Linked DNA regions of Homo sapiens. The protein of the gene in region 2 purifies or fractionates together with the protein of the main gene of each other region. This does not show direct contact. Each region holds a gene or a part of one and is shown on either strand. Other genes may lie near its edges.

The links.
Region 1: the proteins of ZGPAT (region 2) and MTA2 purify together in Homo sapiens (affinity purification with western blotting; 2 studies listed by BioGRID and IntAct, with this or other methods). This does not show direct contact.
Region 3: the proteins of ZGPAT (region 2) and LSM3 purify together in Homo sapiens (affinity purification with mass spectrometry; 2 studies listed by BioGRID and IntAct, with this or other methods). This does not show direct contact.
Region 4: the proteins of ZGPAT (region 2) and SNU13 purify together in Homo sapiens (affinity purification with mass spectrometry, with the first as the bait; one large-scale study listed by BioGRID). This does not show direct contact.
Region 5: the proteins of ZGPAT (region 2) and PRPF4 purify together in Homo sapiens (affinity purification with mass spectrometry; 5 studies listed by BioGRID and IntAct, with this or other methods). This does not show direct contact.
Region 6: the proteins of ZGPAT (region 2) and SNTB2 purify together in Homo sapiens (affinity purification with mass spectrometry; one large-scale study listed by BioGRID and IntAct). This does not show direct contact.
Region 7: the proteins of ZGPAT (region 2) and DTNB purify together in Homo sapiens (affinity purification with mass spectrometry; one large-scale study listed by BioGRID and IntAct). This does not show direct contact.

The regions. Positions count from the first base shown.
Region 1 is NC_000011.10:62,595,790-62,598,865, forward strand, and holds part of MTA2 (metastasis-associated protein MTA2), read right to left. Parts: intron 2,851-3,076; coding exon 2,733-2,850; intron 2,602-2,732; coding exon 2,538-2,601; intron 2,353-2,537; coding exon 2,235-2,352; intron 1,924-2,234; coding exon 1,821-1,923; intron 1,627-1,820; coding exon 1,527-1,626; intron 1,037-1,526; coding exon 848-1,036; intron 744-847; coding exon 669-743; intron 549-668; coding exon 490-548; intron 319-489; coding exon 221-318; intron 103-220; coding exon 1-102. UniProt on the Homo sapiens protein: May function as a transcriptional coregulator. Acts as a component of the histone deacetylase NuRD complex which participates in the remodeling of chromatin.
Region 2 is NC_000020.11:63,714,539-63,718,038, reverse strand, and holds part of ZGPAT (zinc finger CCCH-type with G patch domain-containing protein), read right to left. Parts: intron 1-3,500. UniProt on the Homo sapiens protein: Transcription repressor that specifically binds the 5'-GGAG[GA]A[GA]A-3' consensus sequence. Represses transcription by recruiting the chromatin multiprotein complex NuRD to target promoters.
Region 3 is NC_000003.12:14,198,720-14,201,622, reverse strand, and holds the end of LSM3 (U6 snRNA-associated Sm-like protein LSm3), read right to left. Parts: 3' UTR 501-2,903; downstream 1-500. UniProt on the Homo sapiens protein: Plays a role in pre-mRNA splicing as component of the U4/U6-U5 tri-snRNP complex that is involved in spliceosome assembly, and as component of the precatalytic spliceosome (spliceosome B complex).
Region 4 is NC_000022.11:41,678,868-41,682,367, forward strand, and holds part of SNU13 (NHP2-like protein 1), read right to left. Parts: exon of another isoform or gene 3,492-3,500; coding exon of another isoform or gene 3,489-3,491; intron 1,498-3,488; coding exon 1,377-1,497; intron 1-1,376.
Region 5 is NC_000009.12:113,282,158-113,285,657, reverse strand, and holds part of PRPF4 (U4/U6 small nuclear ribonucleoprotein Prp4), read right to left. Parts: intron 3,013-3,500; coding exon 2,925-3,012; intron 2,527-2,924; coding exon 2,447-2,526; intron 2,270-2,446; coding exon 2,176-2,269; intron 1,364-2,175; coding exon 1,269-1,363; intron 1-1,268. UniProt on the Homo sapiens protein: Plays a role in pre-mRNA splicing as component of the U4/U6-U5 tri-snRNP complex that is involved in spliceosome assembly, and as component of the precatalytic spliceosome (spliceosome B complex).
Region 6 is NC_000016.10:69,305,664-69,309,163, reverse strand, and holds the end of SNTB2 (beta-2-syntrophin), read right to left. Parts: 3' UTR 112-3,500; downstream 1-111. UniProt on the Homo sapiens protein: Adapter protein that binds to and probably organizes the subcellular localization of a variety of membrane proteins. May link various receptors to the actin cytoskeleton and the dystrophin glycoprotein complex.
Region 7 is NC_000002.12:25,663,578-25,667,077, forward strand, and holds part of DTNB (dystrobrevin beta), read right to left. Parts: intron 1-3,500.

The DNA.
Region 1 (3,076 bases), on a different chromosome or scaffold from region 2:
TCTTCAGTCCCCCATACTTCTTCCAGTAGATCCAACAGGAAGCACAGAGGCGGCACTGCATGTTAGGTGGGCCCCAGGCATACCACTGAGCAGACTGTGTGGCTGTAGAGTACGGAGAGGAGGGGGACAGGGAAGAAGCATACTACCTAAGCCCCTCAGATTCTTGAGCCACAGCAGGCCTTCCACCCATCCCCACCATCCCAGTGCCCCCGTAACTCACTGTGGCAACTCTCACAAGTCAGGCCCTTCTGAAATCCAGCCCCATTCATGCCAGGTTTTGAACCCACAGAAATGATCTGGTTAGGGTTTGGCTTAGTGCTAACGGGGAAGGCGAGGAGAAGGGAAAAAAACAAGAAACTGGTCAAGGAAAAGAATCAATTTCCACTCTCAGTGTGCCCCTACCTCCTGCCCACCCCCAATCACTGAGGAAGGCACAAGTTAGGGGAAGGGAAGGAAAACACTCTGGTCTCCCCTACCCACCACACTTACTAGGTGGGAATGTAGACCTGTTTCAGTTTGCTGTCTGCTTCAGCAGCTTTCAACCTTTTCTGTAAGAAGGTAAAAAGAAAGAGAAGGATCAGAGCCTCATAGCAGGGAGAATGTCATCAACTTCAAAGGCAGAGGTCAGCAGGTAGCCTATGGTCCACCCTCCCCAGCCCAGATAATACCTGCTGAATATACCGGTCTGTGGTTTTCCACATGTAATAAAACTGGACTATGCTGGCAAGTGACTTCCAGGGTAGCTAAGGGGGGCAGAGGGAGGAAGAATGAGCTGGCATCTGGCCCCAGGTCCTGGTTCCCTCACCTGTCATCTCTCCCACTTCTCCTCCTAGTGCCATCCACTTACAAAATCCTGGCGAATATCATTGAAGTCCTTCCCATACTTCTCTAGGGCCTCCTCAAATAGCATGGCCTCTGAGGCTGACCATTCCTCCATCTCATCCCGACACAGCACCGGGCCTCCCTGGGGTACCAGGGTCGACATGGCCTTAGCCAGGTCGTAGCCGTTCCTTTGCAAGGTATCCATGGCGTGAAACTATGGGGAAGATGGAGAGCAACTGAGGACCTGAAACTTTTGGCACCACTCCCTTCCTGCTCCTTAAAACACTCCCACTCCCGGCCGGGCGCGGTGGCTCACACCCATAATCCCAGCACTTTGGGAAGCGGAGGCGGGCAGATCACGAGGTCAGGAGATCGAGATCATCCTGGCTAAAACGGTGAAACCCCGTCTCTACTAAAAATACAAAAAATTAGCCAGGCGTGGTGGCGGGTGCCTGTAGTCCCAGCTATTCGGGAGGCTGAGGCAGGAGAGTGGTGTGAACCCGGGAGGCGGAGCTTGCAGTGAGCTGAGATTGCGCCACTGCACTCCAGCCTGGGCGACAGAGCAAGACTCCTCTCAAAACAAAACAAAACAAACAAAAAAAAAACACTCCCACTCCCTCAGAGATACCCTCCTCTTCTGTTCCCAGGCTCTGCAAGTCCCCAGAAAACCCAGCCTGCCCAACTACCCACCAACTTCTGCTCACCAGAGTGATATCTCGGGAGGCAGCAGCTGCACTCATGTGCAAGCTTGGCTGCCGAATGGAGCTGCTACAATCTAGGGCTCTTGCAAAGGTTCCCACAGCTCTAAGGGAGAAATTGAGAAGTCAAAAGCGAAAGAAAAGTCAAAAGCCCAAGTGGGCTGGGAAATTAAGCCAAAGGAGAAAGAAGGAAAACATCCATGGCAATGAAAGAAATAAAGTCCATCTCTAAGAACCATGGGACTCAGAACAATGTCCACACCTCCCCCAGCCCATCTTCCCTATCCACCCACCCCTCACCGGGCCACCACAAGAAACTGGTCGATCTGCCGGTCTGTGAGAGGGTTGTCTGGGTCCCAGACCTTCATCTCCATCTTCTGCTGGTTCCGATTATCAGATTCTCCTGGGGAAAAGAACAATGGCATCAACAGGGAGAGGGCAGGGGGGAACAGTTGGTGTCTTTTCATTCACAATAGCACCTCCTCCTTCTCTTCTTCTGCTTGGATTCTATCAACTCTCCGACTTCTCTTCCCAACTGTTCCCATTTTCCCTTTTCAGGTTCCTACAGGCCCATTCTGTCAGGGTCATGGCAGAGAGCCCTGCAGACAGTGCACTGCACAACCCCAGGTGACGCCATTCACAGAGACTATAATGTTAAAGTGCCCCTTGGAATTAGACAACCTGGTAGCCGTACAGTCTTGTCCTGTTGCTTACCCTCTACTAGGCGATCTGGGATCTCAGCTTGGTATTTGCAACCAACTCTAATCTCGCCCTGATCAGCGAGAAGTGTCTTCTGCACGGGGTCAAACACCAGTGAGTAAAAAAAGCAGTCCTGGAATTGGGGAGAGACAAGGTAAGCAAGGCAGCAATCCACATAGGCGGCGGGGAGGGAGGTGTATCTGAGTTTCCATGACCGGCAGTCTGGCAACCCTGTACCTCATCATTGTGCTCCTTTCCCCCTCTCTTTTGCGGGCAATACCCATTCCCCTCGCTCTTCTCTCAACATCTCTTTCTCACCTCCTTTTCCAGGTACTGGCTCAAGATATCTGTCTCATTCAAGAGGGTCACACTGCATTTCCCCCTATAGGAGAGAGATTGGAAAACCCCGGTGAGCCCCACTCTCCCTCCCCACAGCATCTCTCAATACCACCTCCTTCTCTCCATCTTCTACGTAAGTGCACGCAGGCTATGCTGGCCCCAGTTGTCCTGTACCGTATGTGGGTGGCTGGTAATGATTCAAATTGCCGAGAAAGAAAAAGTTCCCGGTGCTTCAGTTGATGGCGCTGCTGCTCAGACACCCCTGGCTGCTTTGATTCCTCTTCAAACTCCCCTGGGAGATTAAAGAGGAAGAAACCAAGTCAGAAATGGATCCAGCAAAACACCACCCTGGAAACTCTAACTCAGGGAAAATATTTCCTATCTTGGCTGTTTTTTTCTCACATTTCCCAGGCGTCTGCCTTCTATACCCTTATCCCACCAGCTTTCCTTCTTAGCTCTATGCCCCATCATAGATGCTCCCAACTCTATCAGTAATGCTTTTAGAGAAGAACTGCTGA
Region 2 (3,500 bases):
GGAGTTTTGCTTTTGTTACCCAGGCTGGAGTGCAATGGTGTGATCCTGGCTCACTGCAACCTCTGCCTCCCAGGTTCAAGCGATTCTCCTGCCTCAGCCTCCTGAGTAGCTGGGATTACAGGCACCTGCCACCACGCCCAGCTAATTTTTGTATTTTTAGTAGAGATGGGGTTTCTCCCTGTCGGCCAGGCTGGTCTCGAACTCCTGACCTTAGGTGATCCACCCACCTTGGCCTCCCAAAGTGCTGGGATTACAGGTGTGAGCCACTGTGCCTGGCCTCTGCAAAAACTTATAAAAGAAATTAGTTAGGTGCAGTGGTGTACACCTGTAGTCCCAGCTACTTGGGAGGCTGAGGCAGGAGGACTGATTGAGTCCAGGAGCTCAAGGCTACAGAGCTATGATCGCATCGCTGCTCTCCAAACGGCAACAGAGTGAGACTGTGTCTCAAACAACAAAACAACAACAAAAAACAATCTTATGGAATGCAGTGAAAGCAGTGTTTAGAGGGAAATCTGTAGCTGTAAATGCTTACATTCAAAAAGAAACACCTTGGCCGGGAAACGTCTACTCAGGAGGCTGAGGCAGGAGAATCGCCTGGGCGGCGGAGGCTGCAGTGAGCTGAGATCATGCCACTGCACTCCAGTCTGGGTGACAGAGGGAGACTCCATCTCAACAGCAACCAAAAAAAAAAAAAAAAAAAAAAAAAGAAAAGAAAAAAGAGATCTCAAATCAATAACTTAACTGTATACCTTGAAAAATTAGGGGAAAAAAAGAGCAAATTAAACCCAAACCAGCAGAAAAAAGGAAACAAAGGTTAAAATGGAAATAAATGAAACAGAATGGGAAAACAATAGAGATCAGCAACAAAAAAGATCAACAAAATTGACAAACCTTTAGCGAAAATGACCAAGAAGAAAAGACAGGCCATGCGTGGTGGCTCATGCCTGTAATCCTAGCACTTTGGGAGGCCAAGGCTGGTGGATAACCTGAGGTCAGGATTTCAAGACCAGCCTGGCCGACAGGGAGAAACCCCATCTCTACTAAAAATACAAAAACTGGCTGGGCATGGTGGCTCATGCCTATAATCCCAGCACTTTGGGAGGCCAAGGTGGGCGGATCACCTCAGGTAGGGAGTCCAAGACCAGCCTGGCCAACATGGTGAAATCCCATCTCTACTAAAAATATAAAAATCAGCCAGGCGTGGTGGTGCACGCCTATAGTTCCAGCTACTCAGGAGGCTGAGGCAGGAGAATTGCTGGAATCTGGGAGTCGGAGGTTGCAATGAGTGAGATTGCACCACTGCACTCCAGCCTGGGAGACAGAAACAGACTCCGTCTCAAAAACAAAAAAACAAAACAAAACTAGCTGGGTGTGGTGGCTCACACCTGTAATCCCAGCTACTCAGGAGGCTAAGGCAGAATTGCTTGAACCTGGGAGGCAGGGGTTGCAGTGAGCCAAGATCATGCCACTGCACTCCAGCCTGGGTGACACAGTGAGACTCCATCTCAAAAAAAAAAAAAGAGGAAGAAAAGAGATGACTCAAATTGCTAAAACCAAGAGAGAAAGTGGAGCTATTACTACTGATCTTACAGAAATAACTAGGGCTATAAAAGGATACTATGAACAATTGTATGGTAACAGATTAGATAACATAAACAAAATGGACAAATTCCTAGAAACATGCATGCAAACTATCTAAACTGACTCAAGGCTGGACGCGGTGGCTTATGTCTGTAGTCCCAGCACTTTGTGAGGCCGAGGCGGGTGGATCACCTGAGGTCAGGAGTTCGAGACCAGCCTGGCCAACATGGTGAAATGCTGTTCCTACTAAAAATACAAAAATTAGCCAGGTATGCTGGCGTGCGCCTGTAGTCCGAGATACTGGGGAGGCTGAGGTGGGAGAATCACTTGAACTCGGGAGGTAGAAGTTGCAGTGAGCCAAGATGGCACCACTGCACTCCAGCCTGGGCGACAGAGCGAGACCAAACTGACTCAAGAAGAAACAGAAAATCTGAATAGACCTATAACAAATAAAGAATCAGTAGTCAAAAAACTTCCAATGAAAGAAAAGTTCAGAAACTTTCACTACAGTTATACGTTTTAGCTTCCAAAAAGAAAAGTCAATTTCAATAAGGAAATTGAATCAATAGTCAATAAACTTCCAACAAAAGAAAAGTCCATCTCTCTCTCTCTCTCTCTCTCTCTATATATGATTGTATATATCACTTCACTGTTGAATTCTATCAAACATTTGAAGAAGAATTAACACCAATCCCTTTTTACCTCTTCCCATAATATAAAGAATACTTCCTAACTCATTCTATGAGGCCAATATTATGCTGGCATCAAAGCTATACAAAGACATGCCAAGAAAAGAAAACTACAGACCAATATCCCTTATCAATACAGATGCAAATATTCTCAACAAAACAGCAGCAAATCAAATCCAGCAATGTTATTACATGATAAGGCCTTAAACTTTTAACTGTTAAAAAGATAAGGCTCGCTGCGGTGGCTCACGCCTGTAATCCCAGCACTTCGGGAGGCCAAGGTGGGTGAATCACGAGGTCAGGAGTGCAAGACCAGCCTGTCCAACATGGCAAAACACCGTCTCAACTAAAAACACAAAAAATTAGCTGGGCATAGTGGCGGGCACCTGTAGTCCCAGCTACTCAGGAGGCTGAGGCAGGAGAATTGCTTGAACCCGGGAGATGGAGGTTGCAGTGAGCCGAGATCGCGCCACTCACTCCAGCCCGGCGACAGAGTGAGACTCTGTCTCAAAAAAAAAAAAAAAGAAAAAGAAAAAAGATAGGGCCAAGTGGCTCATGCCTATAATCCCAGCGCTTTCGGAGGCTGAGGCAGGAGGATCACTTTAGCCCAGGAGTTTGAGACCAGCTTGGGCAACAGAGTGAAATCTCATCTCTACAAAAATAATAATAATAAAGAGATAATACGCCATGAATATGCGTGCTTTATCTGAGGAATTCAAGGATGGTTCAACATACGAAAATCAATATACCACATTAACAAAATGAAAGGAAAAAAACCACACATGATCATCTAAAGGAAAAAAGCATTTGAAAAATCCCACACAGCTGGGTGCAGTGCAGTGACTCACCCCTGTAATCTCAGCACTTTGGGAGGCTGAGGCAGGATTGCTTGAGCCCTGGAGTTTAAGACCAGCCTGGGCAGCAAAGCAGGACCCTACCTCTACAGAAAAATTAAAAAATTAGCTGGGCATGGTGGCTCATGCCTGTAGTCTCACCTACTCAGGAGGATGAAGTAGGAGGATCCCCTGAGCCCAGGAATTCGAGGTTGCAGTGAGCCATGATCATGCCACTGCCCTCCAGCCTGGGTGACAGAACAAGACCCTATCTTTAAAAAAAAAATCAACACCCTTTCATGATAAAAAACACTCAACACACTATGAATATAAGAGAATTTCCTCAACTCGATAAAGGGAATCTACAGAAAACCTACAAGTAACATCATATTCAACA
Region 3 (2,903 bases), on a different chromosome or scaffold from region 2:
CTGATCCCCACACAGGTTGCTCCAGAACCTCCTGGATTCCAGAGCAATAGCTTAAAGTCATAGTGTCAGTCTGAGGTGTGTTCCAAGAAATTTGTTACTAATAGGAAAGTACCAAAGGGATTTTTCTATAAGTTGGGGCAGACTAAAAGTTTTCCTGTGTAATAGGCATTGTGTCCAGCTCCATTTCCCCTTTCCTCTGGTTTCCTTCAGAGAACGACCCCTCCTTCTGCACTTAGACCATACAGCTCAGGTGGGGATAACCTTGCTCTTAGTTCCAGAAATGGGCGTGTGACTGAGGCCTGGCCAATCAGAGCCCCACATTCTCATGGCCGTAAAAACCAGCCCACAGATGGGCACAGGGACCAAGCAAGGAGGATGAGACCACTTTAGCTGGAGGGCAGGTAGGCTGGAAGTCTGCATCTGCTACAGGGAAGAGCTTGCCCACGAATGAAATCCATGTAGTTCAGCAGAGCTGAGTGACAGAGAAACATCAACTGTGCTTCTTGATCTAGCCAGGATGACTCCTGGAACTTTTATTAATTTTCTACATTGAACACAGCTGAGCATTACTCACATCTGACATCTGTTCAAACAATAACATTTCTCCCCTCCTGGCAGCAGGCTAAAAGCAATATGGGTAATAGCTAAGTATTATTTGAGACAGGGTCTTGTTATGTTGCTCAGGCTGATCTCGAACTCCTGGGCTCAAGTAATCCTCCCGCCTCAGTCTCCTTAGTGGTTGAGTTTACAGGTGTGTGTCACCGCACCCACTTTAGCTGATTAAATAAAAGGGTGTGTGAAACCACTTTCTGCCTCTTAGTGTGAAGAGGGATAGTACTCTAGTTTGGGCAAATCTTCAAAAATCACTATTTGAAATTTGAAAATCGTCCATTTGCAGCTAATGATTAAGTTTAACTTGGGATACTCAAGTTACTTTTCATTTTGGGCACATTTCATCTCAAAGATGTGGTCCCATATTTTGTCCATTTTTCTTTGTGGGAGGCAATGGCAATTCATATCGGCCTCTCATAAAACAACCAAGACCGGGATCCAGGCATGATACTTGCTGAAGAGGCTTCCCTTAGGCTAATCTGACACCTCATTGCAGAAACCACCAGTCACCAGCTCCACTGACCACCTGCCATCCAGCTGGCTGGAGCCGAGTGCTCTGCAGACTCAGAAGTCCAAGGCGTGGCTCCCAGGGGCCCTCACACCATAACCCCTCAGTGGACAGCACCACTGCAGAGGAAACCTCAGTGTGGACCATGGCAGGGCCCTGCTTGAGCTGTCTCTGTTGTGGATTGAGTCCCAGCTCCAAAAGGACTCACACATTGCCTCCCCTCCCTCCATTTCCTGACACATAGGTGGCTATTCTGCAGTTAACCTTTTATTGTCCCTCCCCTTGTATCTTAGCAGCTAGGAAATGAAGTAGGTTGGTATGTTTTAGTTGTGTGTGCATATGAGAGTAACAGTGTCAGATATTAAGGTTCATGGGTTTTAGAAATGTGTATAATCAAGTCCTCACAGCCAAAAGTTTTAGTGTAAACTATCAGTTCCAGGAGAAAAAGGAGAAAGATAACTAAGAATGAAGAGAAGAAAGTGTCCAGGAATTCAGTGTGACTATCAGAAACCACTAAAAATGAATGCAGTGCTGGGGAGAACTGCAGACTGGCAGAGCGAGGCCAGATGGCCTGTCACCCCACGCCTTAGTGAACACCAGGAGCCAACAGACTGCCCAGAGCCAGGGCCTTGGTACCACACCCACACCACAGGCTCACACAGGTAGGAGGCAGGCAGGTTCAATCTTGCTGCCACATACTAATGACCACAGGCGGCCTGAGGTCTTTGAGGTTGTTTCTTCTAACATTCTGCAGGAGGGAGTTCATTTTTCAATACTGAATGGGCTGCTGTAAACAGGTTATCTCCTGGGACCACTACAGCTTAAGGACAAAGCGTGGGGATGGCACAAGTGAAGGGAGGGTGTCTCTCCTGCCTCCTCACCTAAGATGAAGCCTCCATCAGCTCACCCACACTTGTTTTTCTCTTCTCCATGAACTTGCAGGGGCATGTACCATTAGTAAGGAAAATAAAACCTTTTAAATATGTTTACTGAAAGCATCTTTCTTGCACAAGGCTTAAAGTACTGTGCATTTGTGAGCATATCGTGCTTGATAATGAACACGCACACACATTCAGCTCATTTACAGACAAACCATCCACAAGTTGGATTTTCTACATTTCAAAATGGAATGACCATAGCGGAGGATGTCAGGTTCTAAGCCCTGTCTTGATAAAGTTTGAGAGATTGTAACACGCTTTTACTTTCCTCTTTAGGTTTTAAGCATTATGTGCTGACTGAAGCTAGAAATAAAAACAGCTTTGCTTTCAGCCAATTTCTGCTTTACTGTGTCACTGAGACATGTTGTTTGAGACCCCTCATCATTAATGGCCAATGATCCAAGAGTGGAAAAATGGTCTGAGTCATAATTATAAACAGGTTATGATCAAGCTGAACGTCTGACCTTAGAATTAAATCAGGCCAGAGAAAAGAGAAATCATGCTTTGCTCTGTCTTCTACTGCAGGGTTGATGTTTACAATGTCCCTCTGCCCCTTTCTCCCATATTTGGGTGCTCTTCCCCATGCTCCTATGGCATCCTGCATGTGCATGATTCTATCAGCACTAATCTTACTGCCTGCAATTGTTGGTTTAAACATCTGCCTCCCCAGAAGACTTGAGGGCAGAAAACTTTTTTTTTTTTTTTTTTGACACGGAGTCTCGCTCTGTTGACCAGGTTGAAGTGCAATGGTGTGATCTTGGCTCACTGCAACCTCTGCCTCCTGGGTTCAAGCGTCTACTGCCTCAGCCTCCTGAGTAGCTGGGATTACAAGTATGCGCCACCAC
Region 4 (3,500 bases), on a different chromosome or scaffold from region 2:
CAAACACAGTTGACAAAATCTCTGATGTTTCCATTAAAAATCTTCAACGACAAAAGAGCTCTACCACATCAAACTACCCAGCATCTATTAAAATGAGAGTATTCTGGCTGGGCATGGTAGCTCACGCCTGCTGTTATCCTAACACTTTGGGAGGCCAAGGCAGGCAGATTGCCTGAGCTCAGGAGTTTAAGACCAGCCTGGGCGACAGAGCGAGATTCTGTCTCCAAAAAAATAAAATAAAATAAAAATAAGGCTGGGCAGCCGGGCACAGTGGCTCACGCCTGTAATCCCAGAATTTTGGGAGGCCAAGGCAGGCGGATCACTTCAGGTCAGGAGTTCGAGACCAGCCTGGCCAACATGGTGAAACCTCGTCTCTACTTGAAAAAAAATAAAAATAAAAATAAGGCTGGGCACAGTGTCTCACGCCTGTAATCCCAGCAGCACTTTGGGAGGCCAAGGCAGGTAGATCACCTGAGATCAGGAGTTCGAGACCAGACTGACCAACATAGTGAAACCCCATCTTTACTAAAAATACAAAATTAGCTGGACGTGGTGGTGCATGCCTGTAATCCCAGCTACTTGGGAGGTTGAGGCAGGAGAATCATTTGAACCCGGGAAGCGGAGGTTGCAGTAAGCTGAGATCCTGCCATGGCACTCCAGCTTGGGCAACAAGAGCAAAACTCTCCAAATAAAAAAATAAATAAATAAATAAAATAAAATTAAAAAAATAATAATGAATAAAGTGAGAGTATCCTATATCACCTCTGGGCAGAAGCATCATGCATACATAATTATTCTACTGAAAAACAGCTTTTTTTTTTTCCTTTTTTACAAAGGGAGGTAGTGCTCGCTTCAGCAGTACATATACTAAAATTGGAACAATACAGAGAAGATTAGCATGACCCCTGCACAAGGATGACATGCAAATTCGTGAAACGTTCCATGTTTTTGAATAATTGCATCCAAAAAAAAAAGGGAGAGGGGTAGGGAATGTTTCTGGGAACCAAATGAAATTCATGAATGTTAAGTATCCACCGTATAAGGGATGCTAAAAAGCATTAATATCCCTTTCCTTCTGATGGCTCTGGTGAGGTCATACAGCCACTATACAGTCTCCACAACTGCTTTCAAATGGCTCAGCAAAAATAAAATTCACTTATAGAGTGAAAAAGAAGGTAAATGTGGCAAAATGTTAACAATTGGTGGGTCTAAAAAAAATTCTTAGCCCATCAGCTTTAGCATCTAATGCCAAAGTCCTCCCACTGGTTGTAGTCGAGAGCAGCTAGCCCTCCTCCCAAACTGGAAATCAGATCAGAGGCCCCAGATGGAAACAGGTGCCTTTAACATTCCCCCAGAGCATCCTGTGGCTGCCTTACCCTCATTGGCTCCTTTCCGAAGCTGCTTATAGTTACATGACTGCTGAACGAGGTCCAGTAGCTTCTTGGTGAGGTGGGCATCGGCAAGGGGATAGGCCTTTGGATTCACATCAGCCTCAGTCTATGGGGGGGACATAAAAATATCAGACAAATTGAGCCAGAAGTTTTCCTACCTGAGTCACAAAATACTAATCAACAATTGAGACACAGGGGGCAGCTGCCCTGCTCCCTAACCCTCAAACACACAAAACACCAGGTAGTTAACAATGGACTTTCCACTCCTACCTTCGAAAAAAAGGAAATACACTATTAGGAATTACACAGTTCAGTAAAGTATACTAAAGCTCATGTACTTTTGTCTTTCTTCAGCCGAATGTTTGATAATATTACAGCAAATGGATTACAAACGGGTTCCCATGGCTCCGCATCCATTTGAGTCCATGGCTAATCCATTTCTGTTTTTATTTTTTAGATGGAGTCTTGCTCTGTTGCCCACGCTGGAGTGCAGTGGTGCGATTTCAGCTTACTGCAATCTCTGCCTCCCGAGTTCAAATGATTCTTGTGCCTCAGCCTCCCAAGTAGCTGGGACTATAAGCGTGCACCACCATGCCAGGCTAATTTTGTATTTTTTGTGGAGACAGGGTTTCACCGTGTTGGCCAGGCTGGTCTCAAACTCCTGGCTCACGCCTGTAATCACAGCACTTTGGGCGGCCGAGGCGGGTGGATCACCTGAGGTCAGGAGTCCATGGGTAATCTTTAAATTTGAACTTCCGTATTCCACCTGAATTTACTGAATCAATAAGATATAATTTACAGTAAATGTAGCACAAAGTTTTCTTTCCATTCCCCACTCCATATGCGTATCTTCTGTTCAAACCCATGGTTTCCAACACATTAAAGTATTTCCTCACCTCCTCTACAATACACACAAAATGGTTCCAAAATTGCTACACCAATATACCACCTCTACCAACAAACTCACCAAAGTCAAAATTTATTTTTGTTCTTAGGATATATCCTATCAAAGCCATCCAGTGGCAGGACTTTGTTCAAAAGTTATTCAAATTAAAATTTTCCTTGTGGTTAGCAATTTGGTATACAAGTAGATTTATTTTGTAGTCAGCTTGCTTTAAATTTTATTTTTCAAATATGTAAAATATCTTCATGGTTTAAAAGTCAAAACTATGCAAGTGATAGCAACTCAATATTTTGAAAACTGGGAAAGGGAAACAATCATCTTCTGTGCCTTTCCTAAATGCTGTATTAGGCGGTAACCAGGTAGAAGATGAGAAGTACCTCTTGTATCACTCTTCCGCCTAATAAATAAAGAGGGAATGGTACAGTTAAATATCACCAACTTGCAACCCTTATTAACTAATTAATGGCATTTGCAGTTATGTTAAAAATTCTTACTTTATAGATATATACTGTAATACTTATGGATAAAATGATGTCATTCAGATCTGTGTCAAAATAACCCATGTAGGGGACGAGCGCGGTGTCTCACGCCTGTAGTCCTAGCTACTCGAGAGGCTGACGCAGAATAGCTTGAACCCAGGAGGCGGAGGATGCAATGAGCGGAGATGGCGCCACTGCACTCCAGCGTGGGCGACAGAGCGAGACTCCGTCTCAATAAATAAATAAATACACACCCATGTAGGGAGCATATTGGGTGAGTGGCCTGCCTATTCCGCTCCTTCCATCTCATTCCCACTGCTCCAGTAAATCATTTTCATTAATTTTTCTCTTTTTTTTTTTGTTTTTACAAACACATATTTATATACAAGGATATATTCATATTATAACCCAGGTGCGGCCCCACATGTCGCCATCGTGTGTAACGTGCGAATCGCGAGTGATTCACTGCGGCTACCACCTAACCTCGGCCTTGGAGGCTGGACATAGGGTGGACGGCAGTCGCTGGAGACGGAGATGGCCTGGTGGGACCACTCATCTATAGCGCCTGCCTCGGTGGTCTCCTGCCCGACACCGCGCACCTGCCTTTTCCTCCTTCCGTTTTTTTACAGCTTTTCTGACACAGCGGGACCACGCTCGCGGCACCACAGCTCTCGGGAGGTGACCCGGAGATAATGGCCCAGTAGGAACACTCACCATAGCGTCTGT
Region 5 (3,500 bases), on a different chromosome or scaffold from region 2:
ACCTGTAATCCCAGCACTTTGGGAGGCCAAGGCGGGCAGATCACAAGGTCAGGAGATCGAGCCCATCCTGGCTAACACGGTGAAACCCTGTCTCTACTAAAAATACAAAAAATTAGCTGGGTGCGGTGGCGGGTGCCTGTAGTCCCAGCTACTTGGGAGGCTGAGGTAGGAGAATGGCGTGAACCCAGGAGGTGGAGCTTGCAGTGAGCCGAGATCGCGCCACTGCACTCCAGCCTGGCCGAAAGTGTGACACTCCGTCTCAAAAAAAAAAAAAAAAAAAAAAAAAAAAAAAAAAAAAAAAAAAAAAAAAAAAATTTGTAGAGACAGGGTCTCACTATTGTTGCCCAGCCTGGTCTCAAACTCCTGGGCTCAAGTGATCCTCCTGCCGTGGCCTTCCAAAGTGCTGGGATTACAAGTGTGAGCCACCATGGCTGGCTGGCCTTAAACTTTTTAGAGACTTCTTATTTTGGAAATTTTTCAACAAATTACTTTTATATCTATTATCTCGGATGATCTTTCTAACAGACCTGTGAAGCAGGTACGGCAGGAACGATCAAACTTTATAGTGAAGGTAATGAGGCTTGGAGAGGTGGACTCATTTGTGCAGAACCTTGGCTTTCTCCTGAACCCATCTAAAGGTCAGCCTAGTCAAGTAGCTCCTGTGTATTCAATCTAAGTTTCCTTTCTCATTAGATAGCCATGTCCCACAGAAAAACACAACCAAACTCAAACAAAACAACAAAGTTACCACATCCTGAGTTTTCTGCATATGTGGTGATAAGAAAATAAAACAAAGATAAACCAATAATTAACGTTTAACGAGTCCTTACTACATACCAGGCACTGTCAAGGCAAAATGCCTTGCAAACACTACCTCATCCCACTTTACAGGTAAGAACACTGAAGCTTACAGAAATTAAGTATCTTAGCGAGGTCACATAACTGAAAAAGAAAAGCCAGACTGAGTTATGGATACTAGTTGGTCTATAAACTCACTACAGGACCTGTTCCAAAATACTAGTGTCAAGAATGTGACAGAGTGCTTTGTGTAATGGATCTCTGGGGTCACTGGTGAAGAGCGAGAACGGCTAAACCAAGGCTACATTGTATTATACAACAGGTAGAGCACTGACTGACATCTGTAGTTTGGTGTGATCATGAGAAGCAGAGAAAGAGGACGTAGAAATAGACGTCTAACGCAAATGCTAATTTTCTTCCTGAGCCTGTTCCCCATTTAGGAAAAAATGTCATTGTAAAATGGAACTTACCAACAAGCTGTGGCCAGCATCTTGGAATTGGGACTAAAGTGACAGTAGGAGATAGGCCGATCATCCCCAATCTGACTGCAAAAATTATTCAAAGACTTAAAAAGAAAAAAAATACACACACGGTGATCATTAATAGGTTAATCTAAGAGCTCCTTTGCTTTTCCACCATAAAAAGAACAACAAAGCAGCTTTTCAGTTTTAACCCATCCCAAGATTCTTCTATGGTTTTGTTGCTGCTGTTAGAAGACACATACATTGATAAATGAAGTTATATGAAACTCCAGCATGCTGTTTTCTATAGTCTTTTTTTTTTTTTTTTTTTGAGACAGAGTCTTGCTGTGTTGCCCAGGGTGGAGTGTAGTGGCGTGATCTTGGCTCACTGCAACCTCCGCCTCCCGGGTTCAAGCAATCCTCCCGTCTCAGCCTCCCAAGTACCTGGGATTATAGGCACATGCTATCACACCTGGCAAATTTTTGTATTTTTAGTAGAGACAGGGTTTCACCATGTTGACCAGGCTGGTCTCAAACTCCTGAGGCTCAAGTCATCCGCCTGCCTCTGCCTCCCAAAATGCTGGGATTACAGGACTGAGCCACTGTGCCCAGATGTTTTCTACAGTCTTAGGATCACAACTTCTGAGTCAGCTAAATATAAACAGAAAACCCCAGAGAAACTCTGACATATTAACGGGGAGAAATAAAGAATAGAACCATAGGCCTCTGCTGAATACAAAGCACAGTAAGCTCCTGCCACATTAACTGATGGCTCCTTCCATGTCACAGCAGCTCAACTTAAGCAGGGAGGAATCACTCTAGTTGCCTCTACCTTCCCAGAGGTGAGCCAAAGTAGAAAAATCAAATAAACATGAAGAACCTTTAAGATGTGGGACAATTGCTGGGAGCATCTTACCCGGAGAGACTTGTGCAGCTCTTGCATCTGGGAGGTCCTTGTTGTCTCAGGAATCTCCTTATGGAGTCGGGCCTCTTCCAAGCGTTTCATTGCCCTGCGACACAGAAACACCATCACCAGGAGCAACAGGGTTGTAAACAAGGACCCACATGTATCCCTACTCTACCCCTCAATTTCATTTAACAACCATAGTCATTATCCAGCACTCAGTTCCTGAGAGGAAACACACACAAAAAATATGCTTCTTTCTTCTACTGGAGGCTCTCTTTACCTGGGCAACGAATAATTAGCAATCCATAGTCTTGCCACCTTCAAGCTATTTGGTCCTTCATGATACCAGGTTTGCTGATACTGAAAGGCAAATTAAGAGCAGAAAGGTCAAATCTGAAGCATTCTACTCCTCTTATAACTGTCATTTCTCCATTTTAACTGCCCAGAAGGAAGGTGAATTCATTCGGTAATAGGATGAAATCAGGCAGAGGACTTTCTACTGAATTTTTTTCTATGATATGTAACTACATGGTTATACCAGGAATGCCATGATTCTTTCCTGACTGGAAAACTCACTTAGCTCCATTCATACTTACAAAGGAACCAAAACTACTGCCAGCAACTCTTCTTGAATGGTAGAGCCTTCAAAAACATTTCCCCCAACATCTCAGCAAAACAAACCATTGAAAGCAGAAAACGAGAGACCTATCCCCTCATTTCCTTCATGTTTATACTGTGAAGTTAAAGACATGTTCTACCTCTTCTTTGGACTTTTTAGACTTCTCATCATCCTTTTTGGTCTTTTTCAAGGCATCAGTACCGACAACTGAGAGGATATTTCTTAACCTGTTAAAAAAAAAAAAAAAGATCAGAATTTAAACATGGTTGAGATAATACTGTTTTTAAAGTACACTTTAACACAGTTTTAAACACTGTTATTAAAGTTCCCCTAAGATGGGAGCAAGCCTTTACTATTCTCTCACTGTTCAAACCACCTAGCAACCTTTTTTTTTTCTTTTTAAGAGATGAGGTCTTGTTGTTGCCCAGGGTGGAGTGCAGTGGCATGATCATGGGTCACTGCAGCCTCAACCTCCTGAGCTCAAGCGATCCTCCCACTCCAGCCTCCCGAGTGGCTGGGACTACATGTACACTGCTACAACTGGCTAATTTTTAAATTTTTCTGTAGAGAGAAGGGCTTGCTATGTTGCCCAGGCAAGTCTTGAACTTCTGGGCTCAAGTGATCCTCCTGCCTCAGCCTCCCAAAGTGCTGGGATTACGGGCATGAGCCACTATACCCGGCCCTCCAGGAACCTTCTTTAAGAGTCAAGTGGGGA
Region 6 (3,500 bases), on a different chromosome or scaffold from region 2:
GTTAACAACTGGAAGGTTTGGGTGAAGAAGATTTGTATTGTTTTTGTAACTTTCCTGTAGGTTCAAAACTATTTCAGCATTTTAAAAATTGGAAAAAAAAAACAACCCACGTGACTAAAGCAACTTTTTTATTTACAGTATAAAGGTTACAAAGGTATATATGTATTTATATATATAATACCCTTAAGTTACACATTTTCATTGTAATGTACAATGCTGTATGTTGATGTGCTACTCAAGGGGAAGTGTTGTTTATGCATCTATATTTATAGAGTATACATAAAGCTTTTTAAAATTAGGAACACAAATACTGCCCTGTTTTACGCGTTGGGTTTTTGATTTGGTATCCAGAAGATCTGAGACTTAAATTTCAAACAAGACTTAAAAAGAAGGCTTGTTTAAATACAGGGTTCTAAAAAGAAGGAAAAAACCCAGAACATCACATACTTTTAATTATTTGTAAAAGCATTATTCTAGTTTTCTAAGTCTTTATACTTAAAAATGAAAGCAGTGTGGAAAAGAATCCACATAAGCAGGTATCATCAGAGTTTGCACAGATTAGCCAAAACAGGCCTTCAATAGGTAGTGGTTTTCTACATTATCTTCCAAAAGACCTCAGGTTTGGTACCAAAAAGGACAGATTTTTCTGGGCACCAAGGTCTTATAATGCTGCACTCATCCAATGGATTGTAAACATAATACTGGAGTCGTATAGTGGAGGGAAAATTCTGAAACTTGTTCTTACGATAAGGGCAGATTTGCGACAAAGTGAGAATATCATCGAGAATGATGATCATGCCAAACCTGAAACTTAATTGACATCATCATTTCCTCTCCCCCCAATTCTATTAATTCACAAATCGAGGTGAAAAGACACAACTGACACCCGCTTTAACAGGACCCAGATAGAAGGAAAGACATTTCTTCCAACCTAGGAGGAACACACATTTACAATACTTATGTGCTGGTTTTAATAGTATACAATCATTAGCACCTGATTGTCAAAGGGTAGGTTTAAAGAACAAGACACTGAAGGCATGACCTAATTTTTGTGCACAACTCCAAGATACTTGAAAACCAAGGGGAGGGCACCCATGTGATTCGGTTTCCTGTGCCATTCCAATCACTGATAGCTCAGGTACTTTCTGGGCAATGACCAAGGATGTTGCCTGAAAAGCTAACCCTAGAGATAAATGGAAGGCAAGCTGGATAGAAAGGGACTGTTATTGTGTGAAAATTATGGAAAACATTCAGTCAGCCTTATTTTCTTTAGGTGCCCTTTTCATTGAGTCCAAATGCCAGCGTGTCCTGGAATAAGTGAAATTTTGTTAATTTTTATTTTTTAAATGTTAAAAGTTTTTTTTTTTTTTTTAATTTTTTAAATGGAGTCGGGGTCCCGCTGTGTTGCCCAGGCTGGTCTGGACCTCCTGGGCTAAAGTGATCCTCCTGCCTTGGCCTGATTTTGTTAATTTTTAAATATCTTCATTTTGATCTATCATTAATGGAGAAATATTCCGTCTACCATGTATATAAGGACTTTCAGCAGATGAAATGCTTAAATAGTTTAAGGGTGGAAATGAATACAGCAATTAGAAATAAGGGGTTGATAAAATATGCATTTAGTTTTGCTGTTACAGTTAAAGAAGCATTTTTTAAGAAAGACTTTCTCATTTATCTACTTTGTGCAATAAAACTTAATTTTTGTTGTTGTGATTTATCTTACAAAGGATACTGTATACTGTTCTCTTTCCCAAACTAAAGTCTAAATTTGCACTAAAAAAAAAATCATGCATGATGAAAAGACCAGCCTACTTAAATGTGCTTGGAGTCCTTTCATGTTGGCATGGATCAAAGCCTGAGTATCCCTTCAAACATTTTCCAGTTTGCCAGATCCAGATAAACAGACTTGTAAATATACTTTGGTAAAAATATGAAGTGATGAATTACTTAACTGCTGAATGATAAACAGATGGCATGGTGTGCTGAGAAATAACGGATTATGTGCTACTAGAGGGCAGGAACTTTCTTTTGGACCCTTCAGAATGCCTGGTGTAGAACTATACATTAATAAATGTTTATTAGATGAAAGAACACATGAATATGTCATTAATTAGCTTTCCAGTTTCAAAATTAGTGTCAATAGCATGGACGTAAGATTATTGCAAACTGAGAAAGGGACTTAGGGGACTCAGAAATTATAAATCTTTTTCTTCTTTTTCTTTTTTTGGAGATGAAGTCTCGCTCTGTTGCCCAGGCTGGAGTGCAATGGCATGATCTCAGCTCACTGCAACTTCTGCCTCCTGGGTTCAAGGGATTCTCCCACCTCAGCCTCCCGAGTAGCTGGGACCACAGGCGCGCACCACCATGCCCAGCTAACTTTTTGTATTTTTAGTAGAGATGGGGTTTCACCATGTTGGCCAGGCTGGTCTCAAACTCCTTACCTCAGGTGATCCACCCACCTTGGGCTCCCAAAGTACTGGGAATACAGGCATGAGCCACCGCACCCGGCCAGAAATTATAAATCTAACCAGGATTCCCAAACCTACAATACAATGAAATATCATTTCTCTCTTATAGGTTTTTGGTTTTAACCAATCTATTTTAAAAGGGGCAATTCAAGGATTATGGTTTATATGGTGGATTTCTGTTGAATATGATCAAATGTTCACTGGAGAACAAGCAATAATTTGCAAAAGGCATATTTATGCCTTACATTAAATGTGGATCCTCTTCTAAAACTAGAATAAGCATCAGTTCAGTCACCCAACGTGGGAAGAAAGAATAGAGGTGGCAAGAAATGAAGCTCAAGTTTGTTTTGAAACAAAAGAAGAAACTTATTAAAAGATTCTTCTGAGTTACTACATAACAACCATTCTTCTAGTTGGCAGTTTAGCTAGTCAGAGAGACAAAAAAAAACAAAACCAAAACCAAAAACAAAAACAGATGTCCTCTATGTGCCTATTTATTGTGCCTTATCCTTAACTTGAAATTCTATCCTTTAAGAGAATGAATTTGTGTCACTCATCTGCCAGATGTTTTTGTTTTTTTAGAGAAAGGTTTCAAATCAGCCACTTAAGCAGTCTATTACTAGTGTAAAATAAATTCCATTTAACATCACAGCATAGGAATAATGATATTGCTCAAAAATACAGAACCCTGATATATAGCATAATTATTTTAGAACTATCATCACACATTTATCGAGTGTCTATGTATCCAGCACAGTGAAAGATTTAGCTTAAAGGGTGGAGGCGGGCAGATTGCTACAATTGGTTTTTAAAGACAGTATGTGGAAAGTCAGAATAATTTTAGATTACCAAGCAATTAGGGGGCACAGAGAAAGAACAGCAGGAGATGGCAGACTGCTCTACTTCCATCTTCAGTGGGGTTAAAAAAAAAAAAAAGCCACAATAACAACAGAAATTTAACTGAAAGTGATGTCCAAACTCAAAGTAGAGTATAATACCACCTGGTAATTAATGTCATACCTGACAGAGATA
Region 7 (3,500 bases), on a different chromosome or scaffold from region 2:
AATTCTCTGGTAAGTCTTATCCTGAGTGTTTTAGCGGGGGTGGGGAGCACAGTTCTCCATATATTTCCATATATTTTATTATTGAAACAGAGTATACCAAATACCATAAGCTCTGTACTTTTATCCAAATATACATGAACTCCCATGAACTCTAAAATTTGGTACAATAGCCATCATTTCAAAATCTTCAGCAACGTGTTCTACCAGTATCTCAACAACAGTTGCTAATACAGGATACTTTTCAGTTTTACACCAAACTCAAATTATTTATCTATATATCATTTCAGCCACTGTTACCAAACAAGAAGAACAAGAGTTTATGACTTTTTGTCTTTTATTCCTAAACCTCAAAAGGAACTTCTAAAAATGTATTATTAACCTTAATAAAATTTTAAGGTACTGGATTATGACTGACAATCACTGAAAAACATCAATAAGTCTGTCTTTATATTCTGAATATTTAGTTTTTAAATATCTCAATTTATAAGATTAGCCCATAATATCATTAGTAAATACCTTCAGGTACAATGTACTCAACAGTGTATATAAGTCCATATTTTAAATAGTATTTTTAGTAATTCTAAGCTATTTTTTATTACTGCTTTTTCATCAATCTGATGAGATCACCATTGTTTTTATATTATGCATTTGACTGACAAGTTCATAATATAAATAGAAGTATCCACTCTGTTTCTTTCTGGCTGTTCACGTGTATTTGTATTATTACTTCAATCTTCTGCTGACTCTGAAACTTCAATCTGCATTTTCTTTGCAGGAATCTTTGTGAGCCATCTGTCTATTTAGCAAAGTTCATTTTATTCAAATCAGGTAATATGATCTGAAAGACCACTAAACCCAGCAGAGGTGAACTAAAACATGTGCTAAAACAATATAAGCAGGTAAATAAGGAGGATCACAGTATCAGCCCCTCCAGGCGGTGGGGTTCCCTAGCTTACCGTACGTGACAGACATCATCAGACACACAGATGAAGTAAAGTGTCAACCTATGGGTCAAATACTGGTAAAACTTGATTGCTCATATTTTCTTGTAACACCCTGCCTAGAGGATCATTTTACATACCTCCCACTTTGGAGACTATTGCTCTTTTTAAAAGTAGGTGAGAAGACAAGACCGTGCTGAGCTTGAGGAGATTTTCAGGATTAGGGGTGTTAGAAGTAGAGAGGAAACTAAAGTCTAAGTGGTCAGGTAACTTGGCCTGAAGTTGCAAAGCTAGGAATCTGCGGAGTTGACCATGACGATGCTAAAGCGCTAGAGCCCATTTTCTTTCTATTGTGTCACATCGCCCCCTCCAGGGCAACATGAGGCCTCAAGGAATAAGGAAAGAACACAGGTCCCAAAACTGTGGTGCTGGATCAGACCTTAAATCATGGAGCTAAGTAGGATCTGAAGAGAGTGCAGCAAAAAGTTTGGATCCTTGTTAGTTCTTACACTCTGTTCTATTCATAGAAAATAGAGTGTTTCACACCTGGACTACGTCTACACGCAGAAGTTACGTAACTCCCACAGTAAAGACTAAAGGAAAAGGAGAGAAGGCTTTGGAAGTGTCTCCAGGATGTCTCTGTACATGCCTTTGTGTTAAATAGCCTTTATTTCCTTTCCATCTTTTTGTTAATTTCTTAACCCTGCCAGCTCTCAGCTACGTCAAAGCATCCAAGTATTGAAATTTCTTATGTAAGTTCACCACCTCCCACCATCTCCCTGTCAGTTTTTCTTTGGATGTCCATTTAATTAAGAAGTCAGTGAGGGGCCAGGCGCGGTGGCTCATGCCTGTAATCCCAGCACCTTGGGAGGCTGAGGCGGGTGGATCACGAGGTCAGGAGATGGAGACCATCCTGGCTAACACAATGAAACCCAGTCTCTAATAAAAATAGAAAAAAATAGCCAGATATGGTGACATGCGCCTATAGTCCCAGCTACTTGGGAGGCTGAGGCAAGAGAATCCCTTGAACCCAGGAGGTAGAGGTTACAATGAGCTGAGATCGTGCCACTGCACTCCAGCCTGGATGACAGAGCAAGACTCCGTCTCAAAAAAAAAAAAAGTTAGTGATGACTAAGACTCTCATTAACACTTAGTTACAACAAGCCAAACTTTATTGAAAGAGAACTTCCTTGCTTATTTCAGAAAAATTCTCAAATATTCTTCCTTTAATACTTCTTTTCTCTTCTCTTTCAGATTTAAAAAAAAAAAAAAAAGGCCAGGGAAAATAAATGTTCATAAAACCTTAAAGATTTGCTTTTTACAAATCTGAGAGAGTTCTCTAGGTTCCAATAAAAAAATTCAGTAACTGCACTCCACTACAACAAAGAGTTCTGAGTAGCTAAATAACCTCACGGGGCTGTGGTAACTCTTAAATCAATATCATGTAAAGCATTTAGCACAATGGCATCCAGTAAGAGCCCAATAAATGTTAGCTACTATTATTGATATTATTAGGTACTATTCAAATATAGTGAAGTTACGATGATATTTAGTCCAAACCTGATTACTACAGCATTTCAGCCCTATTTTAACTTATATATAATGTTAGTATACAAAAATTCAAGTTTAAAATGTGTTTTCTTTAAAGGTTGTGAGGTTTTTTGTTAAAAGTGAATTAACAAGTAAATCATATACATCTGTTTCTCTCAGTTACCTACAACTCAGAGAGATCTGTCCTATTCTTGACATGTTAAAGAAGGGAAAAAATAATTTCAAGAAATGCCCCAAAAAAAGGCCTCCATAAAATTCAACACCCAATTAAAAATATTTACCAAGAACAGAAGAAAACTTCCTTAAATTGACAAAAGACATCTTCCAAAAACCAACAGTAAACATCATATCTAACAGTGAAACACTGGAAACATTACCACTCAGGAAAAAGATTAAAATGCCCATTATTATACTTATTCTTGTACTGGAAGGCCTAGGCAATGCCATAACAAAGAAAAAAGTCTTTGTATAAAGTTGAGAAAGGAGCTTGGCTAATTAAATCTTCTAGAAAGTGGCCAGTAAGTACATTCTTTGATGCATCCTCTCTGCTCTAAATACACAATAATGGATAAAATATTTTTTAACAATTTTTTTTAATTAGGCTCAAAAACAAGATAAACCTCTATTTGGAGAAACAGAATAGATACACAAAGTTGCAAGCAGGACTGAAGCTCTAGGCTTGCTGGATCCGGAGTCTAGACCAGGTGTGCACTTCCTGCAGGTAGTAATGACAGAAAGCAAAGGAGGATGAAGAAACGGAGATATCTGGGCCAGACCCACTGCTCAAGGCCAGCAATGATGCTGGAGCTGAAAGGAAGCTAAAAAATACTGCTGCCAATCTCTGCCTAGAACTACAGTTTATCTAATACTCTAGGCTTAGATAAGTGGGAAGATATAAACAGCCTCAGGACCATACTCTATGAGAGGATCGAAAATAGCCCAATTAACTCAAAGGGCAGGACCCTTGACCCACAATTATCATATCTGATTCTAGACTGAGGCCCAGTA